Homo sapiens: one gene and its partner. The protein of the gene in region 2 purifies or fractionates together with the protein of the main gene of each other region. This does not show direct contact. Each region holds a gene or a part of one and is shown on either strand. Other genes may lie near its edges.

The links. The genes of interacting proteins can lie anywhere in the genome.
Region 1: the proteins of SERPINF2 (region 2) and PLAT purify together in Homo sapiens (affinity purification with mass spectrometry; one large-scale study listed by BioGRID and IntAct). This does not show direct contact.

What each region holds. Positions count from the first base shown.
Region 1 is NC_000008.11:42,190,566-42,194,065, forward strand, and holds part of PLAT (tissue-type plasminogen activator isoform 1 preproprotein), read right to left. Parts: intron 2,647-3,500; 5' UTR 2,621-2,646; coding exon 2,549-2,620; intron 850-2,548; coding exon 807-849; intron 1-806. UniProt on the Homo sapiens protein: Converts the abundant, but inactive, zymogen plasminogen to plasmin by hydrolyzing a single Arg-Val bond in plasminogen.
Region 2 is NC_000017.11:1,752,871-1,755,765, reverse strand, and holds the end of SERPINF2 (alpha-2-antiplasmin isoform a precursor), read right to left. Parts: intron 1,645-2,895; coding exon 1,232-1,644; 3' UTR 501-1,231; downstream 1-500.

The DNA of each region.
Region 1 (3,500 bases), on a different chromosome or scaffold from region 2:
AGGATAACCTGGTAGGAAGCAGGATGCCATCCAACAACGAAGGCATTAAGAGTCCAGGTGTGACTCGCTCTGGGGAGTGAGTCACCCTTTTTAACACCTTCACAAAGGGTATTGCAGAGTCTTCCAGACTCGAAGGAACTGGGTCGTGAAGGAGGGAAATCGAGGGCCTAAGTTGGTAGTTTTGGACCTGAAGCTGGGCCTCGCATTCCTCAGCCTTCTAGAGTCAACTCTAGATGTGGACTTAGAGACCCCACCATGTCGAGGGGTTGCCTGGGTGGGACATCCCAGTTGGGACATCCCGGTTGGATCAACAGAGGGAAATGGATACACAGGGATGTTGTTACCAAAGCTGCCGGTGCACTGTGGTGGGATCACAGCCTAGGATGAGACCCAGAGCATGGGCCTGGCCTCGGCTGTGACTGCCCTGGCCGTGCTGCTGGCGGCTGTGTGACCCTGGGCAAGCCACTTGCTCTCTCCTGGGCTCTGCCTTTTGATCTGTATAACCAGGACCTTGGGCCAGTGGCCGCCCCCCCCAGCCCCCGCTAGGTTGTGATCCCTGACAGCCTGGCTCCTTGGGGGGGAACACCTGTTTCTGCTCCCCTCAGAATCAGAACCCGCCCAGTGGCCGCAGCTGATGGGAGAATGGTGCCGACACAGGCATCTCTGTAGAATCATGCTGCAATGGCACTGTCACACCGTAGGCAGGTGGTGGGTGGAAGAAGGCAGGTGGTGGGTGGGTGATGCACCCTGCACCCCGCCCTGCCTCCCTCCCTGATGACCCCATGCACCCCTCAGCTTCACCCGACCTTGGTAAGATCTGGCTCCTCTTCTGAATCGGGCATGGATTTCCTGCGAAGAAACCAGAGGTGGAGGAAGGATCAGCACATGCCAGGTGTACTAAGAGTAAAGGCGGCCAACCCAGAAGCCCATGTGAACCTGCCGGCCAGATACCTCTGCTCAGAGACCCCCTCGGGTAACTGGCCCAAGTGAAAGTCCATCTCCTGCCTTCTAGTCCAATTCTTCCTCTCCTTCCTGACTGGCTCTGTCCAGAAGAGCTTTCTGCTTGGTGGAAATGTTTTCTGTCTGTGCTGTCCACGACAGAAGCCACACAGGGCCACCGAGTGCTTTGAATGTGGCCAGTGGGACTGAGAAACAATTTTTAACTTTAATTATTTTAAATTTAAACAGTTGCACAAGGTAAGTGGCCACCATATTGGGCAATGGAGTTGCAGCTGGCTGTCTACTCCACGCAGTCACCTGGCTCTCCCCGCTGTAGGGTCCTGTGGGAGAGGTGTGGTTAGTTTGGACTTCCGTGAGGCCCTTTATTGCTAGGCATTTTCAGAGAGTGTGTGTAGCGCTTCCATCTCAGCTAGAGAGTAGGCACCATGAGGGCAGTTTGCCTCTGCTGTGGCTCATGGCACTTGCATTGCCTTTTTCTTTTTTTTTTTTTTTTTTTGAGACAGGATCTCAGTTTGTCACCCAGGCTGGAGTGCATTGGCGTAATCATATCTCACTGAAGTCCCAACCTCCTGAACTTAAGCGATCCTCCCGCCTCAGCCTCCTGAGTAGCTGGGACCACAGGTGCATACTAGTACACCCGGCTAATTTTTAAATTTTTTGTAGAGACAGCATCTCACTATATTGCCCAGACTGGTCTCCAACTCCTGGGCTCAAGCGATCCTCCCACCTCGGCCTCCCAAAGTGCTGAGATTACAGGTGTGAGTCACTGTGCCCTGTCCTGCATTGTCTTTTATAAATACAGTCCACTTTGTATATCTGCAGGTTCCATATCTGTGGATTCAACCAAAACAGAAAAATAAAAAATAATAATATAAGCTGGGCTTGTGGCTCACACCTGTAACCCCAGAGTTTTGGGAGGCCAAGGCTTAAGCCTAGGAGTTTGGTGCTGCAGTGAGCTATGATTGTGCCATTGCACTCCAGCCTGGGTGACAGAGTGAGACCCTGTTTCCAAAAAATATATAAATAAATAATACAACAATAAAAATAACACAAATTAAAAAATACCTTATAACAACCATTTACATAGCATTAACATTGTACTAGGTATTATAAGTAATTTAGAGATGATTTAAAGTATACAGGAGGGTGTGCATAGGATATGCAAACTCTACACCATTCTATATGAGGAACTTGAGTATCCCTGGATTTTGGTATCCTTGGGGGTCCTGGAACAAATACCCCATAGATATGAGGGACAACTGTACTTTATGGATTAATTTGAATACATTCTTTAAAAACAGCTGCAAAAAAAGGCAGTCACAGGCAGGGAGTGGCATGTTAATTCCGCTTACTCAGGTCAAAATAAGTGCCTAGGGCCCAGCTACACACTGGGCCCCCAAATACAGAGTTTGCTGTACAGAAGGGAGTGTGTGCTGTGTGCTCCACAGCAATGCCAGCCCCTCGTCCCTGTGCCTCTCTGCTCCCTGACAGCATTCCAACCTCCGTGGCCCAGATGGACACAGACCCCTGGAGCCTCCGGAAGCATCACAGCCTTGAGGGGCGGGACACAGGGATCCTGCACACCAACCTGGCTGGGCGAAACGAAGACTGCTCCACACAGCAGCAGCACACAGCAGAGCCCTCTCTTCATTGCATCCATGATTGCTTCACAGCGTCCCTTAAATTCTGGAAGGAGAGAAAAAACAGCTTGATCACGGGGTGCGAGAGGTCCATGATGGCAACAGAGGAGGATAAGCCGCAATGTTGTCCTGTCTGGCTTCCTCCAGTGCCAGCCCCGCGGCAGAAACGCCAGACATGCATCTAGAAGAGGATTCTAGAAACTACATATTTTTTATTGTTGCAAAATATATATAACACAAAATTTACCACCTTAACGATGTTCAGTGCACAGTTCAGTGGCATTAAGCACGTCATATTGCTGTGCGGCCGGCCGTCACCACCGCCCATCTCCAGAACTTCTCCATCACCCCTAACTGAAACTCTGTAGCCATTAAAGAATAACTCCCCATTCCCCTTTTCCCCAGCAGCCACGCTGCTACTTTCTGTCTGTATGAACCTGACTGCTCTACATACATCCTAGAAGTGGAATGAGACAGTGTTTCTTCTTTTGCGACTGGTTTGTTTCACTTTGCAAATGTCTTCAAGGTGCATCCATGCTGTAGCATGTCCTTTTTTTTTTTTTCTTTTAAGATGGAGTCTCGCTCTGTCGCCCAGGCTGGAGTGCAGTGGTGTGATCTCGGCTCACTACAAGCTCCGCCTCCCGGGTTCATGCCATTCTCATGTCTCAGCCTCCTGAGTAGCTGGGACTACAGGCGCCTGCCACCACGCCCGGCTAATTTTTGTATTTTTAGTAGAGACGGGGTTTCACCGTGTTAGCCAGGATGGTCTCGATCTCCTGACCTCGTGATCCGCTCGCCTTGGCCTCCCAAAGTGGTGGGATTACAGGCGTGAGCCACCGCGCCCCCGCTGCCTTTTTTTCTTTTTCCTTTCTTCTTTCTTCTTTCTTTTTTTTTTTTTTT
Region 2 (2,895 bases):
AGGAAGGTGTCAGCCCTGTGCCAAGGTTTCCCCACCTGCTTCCCCCAAATCCTCAGGCACTGACTGTCTCCAGCTGGAGCTGGGTACTCCCGGCAGCCTGCCCCCGGCTGGCGGGCACCAGCTCCTGGCAGAGGGGCTGGTGTGTAATTAGAAGCTCCACAAACTCCCTAATTGCCAGTTCTTCTCCCAAACCAGGAGGCTGGCGCTGTTCTGAGCCGCCCTGTTGCCGGCTGCCTGAGGCATAGAGAGAAGAAGAAGCCAGGAGCAGAGCCAGGCTGGCGTGGAGGTGTCCCGGGGGAGGGCTGGCGAGGTCAGAGGGGACCACGGGGTGGAGGATGCCTGGCGAGCGGCCAGAGGCCAAACGTGGCACTGCGCGGGCTGCCACCCCTGCTGGGCCCAGGGTTCCTCAGCACAGTCCACCCTGCGGCCGCCTCCCTGCCTTCCCCACCATCCTCACTTGTCCCCACCCATGCCCAGAACGGTGACATCAAACCAGCCAGGCCCATTCATTCTTTATTCAGGTGGCATAAAAATCACTACAAAAACCTTACAAAAGAGCCTTAAGGAGCTCATGGGATCCTTCCCTGCCTCGGTTCCTGAGCTCCCGGGCAGAGGAGGGAGACAGGAGAGGAAGGAAGGGAAATGCTGGCAGTGTTGGGATCTCGAGGAGCCGTGGGAAGTCTGGCGTGACAAGGCACAGGGGGTAGGATGGAGGCTGATGGACTCTCGGCAGGTTAGGCCACAGCCAGGCTGTGCCAGACACGAGTTCCACGCGGGGCTGAGGACAACGCTTCGCCTCCCGAGCCACCACCAGGGCCCGTCTCTCCCCACCCTAGCCTAGGTGTCCCGGGACAAGTCCAAAGGCAGCCCTCTCCCCCTCCCTTTTTCTCTGGTAAACAAAAGTCGGGGTGTCCCAGCTGACGTGGGGAGCAGCTAACCTGTCTCCTGGCAGAACTAGAAGCACCTCCCTCCTGCCCAGGCCCCGGTGCAGGACACCCTCTGAGCCTGTTTGGAAGAAAGATGAGGGTCAGGCTCCCGGCTCCCCGATGCCTGCCCTCCTCCCAGCCGCGCCCCCCCCCCACCCTAAACTCCCCAAGAGGTGTTGGGAAAGAATGGCCTCTCTCAGACTGCCCCCGGCCCCTGCCCCAGTGCCACAAAGCCGGTTGGAAAGAGTCACATGAGTGGAGAGGCTGGTCCAGGCAGGGACTCTGGATGCCACAGCCACGGCCCCTCACTTGGGGCTGCCAAACTGGGGGTAATCCTCCTCCATGGGGGGCACAAGTTTTAAGTCAGGGCCGAAAAGCTTGTCTCCGCGGGGGAAGCCTTTCAGGCTCTGGAGGAAGTCCTTGTTGCCCGGGGAATCCTGCTGTTCCTTGAGCTCCCGCGGTGCACTGGGGTTGGGGTTCCTCACGCTGCCCACGAAGAGGGGAAGGCCTGTGGTGTCCTCGAAGATGAAGAAGAGGAAGGGGCGGTTCACGCTGAAGGAGGACAGGGACATGCGGGACATGGCAATGCTGGTGGCCGCCGCCGCCTCCACGCCGACCTCGCTGAGCTCCAGGGTGGACTGATGCTGCACGCCGGACACCACCAGGCTCTGCTCGGAGATCCCACGCAGGTCTGGGGCCTGGAACAACTCCTGCAGGCCTGCCCAGGGCCAGAGATGGCTGGTCAGAGCTGCCCTTGGCCTCACAGGCTCCTGGAGCTGCTTGGGAGGGTGTCTGAGATCCTGGCCAGGGAACAGCTTGAACTCACAGATACCTGCTTCATTCCTATCCGGTTTCCAAGACTCAGCTTAAACACCACCTCCTCCAGGAAGCCTTCCCTGATCCCCAGCTCTAAAGTCCAACCAAGGTACATTTTCAGTGTTCTCCCAGGTGAGCTGGAGAGAAGCCCTCTCTGTCTTATCGCTTATGCTGTAGTAAGTATGTGATTGCTCGTCTGCCCACCCCATTAGACTCAGCTGTTTGTACATGGTGGGCTCCCGGTACCTGGTACAGTGCCTGGAATACAGCAGCTGCTTAGCAAATGGCTGAAGGATAGATGCTTTATTTATTTATTTTAGTTATTATAATTTTTTTTTGAGATGGAGTCTCACTCTGTCATCCAGGCTGGAGTACAGTGGCGTGATCTCGGCTCACTGCAACCTCCTCCTCCCAGGTTCAAGCAATTCTCCTGCCTCAGCCTCCCAAGTAGCTGGGATTATGGGCATGCGCCACCACGCCCGGCTAATTTTTGTATTTTTAGTGGAGACGGGTTTGGCCATGTTGGCCAGGCTGGTCTCAAACTCATGACCTCAGGTGATCCACCCTCTTTGGCCTCCCAAAGTGCTAGGATTACAGACGTGAGCCACCATGCCCGGCCTTTATTTTTATTTTTGAGACAAGGTCTTAGTTCTTTTGCTGAGGCTGGAGTGCAGTGGCACAATTATGGCTCACTGCAGCCTCAGCCACCTGGGGTCAAGAGGGCCTCCCACCTCAACCTCCCCAGTAGCATGCACCACACCTGGCTAATTTTTGTATTTTTTGTAGGGACGGAGTTTCAATGTGTTGCACAGGCTGGTGTCGGACTCCCGGGCTCAAGCAATCCACCCACTTCAGCTTCCCAACGTGCTGGGATTACAGGCATGAGCCACTCCACCCAGCATTTCTTTAACAGTGTGACACCCCAGCTTCTCCTCCTTCCCCTTCCAGGGAAGCCAGCGAGGCTCACATGCCATCCCAGGCTCTCTACCCAGACTCTCCTTGCAATGCGAGGTCTTGGGCAGCAAAGCAGAGCCCCATTCCCCGGGCCACCCCAACTTCCTCTAGGACAGAGGGTCTGGGGGCTCATATTCAACCCTCTCCCCGCTCCCGAAGCCCTGGAAAAGAGCAGGACACAGGACAGCTCTGACTCAGC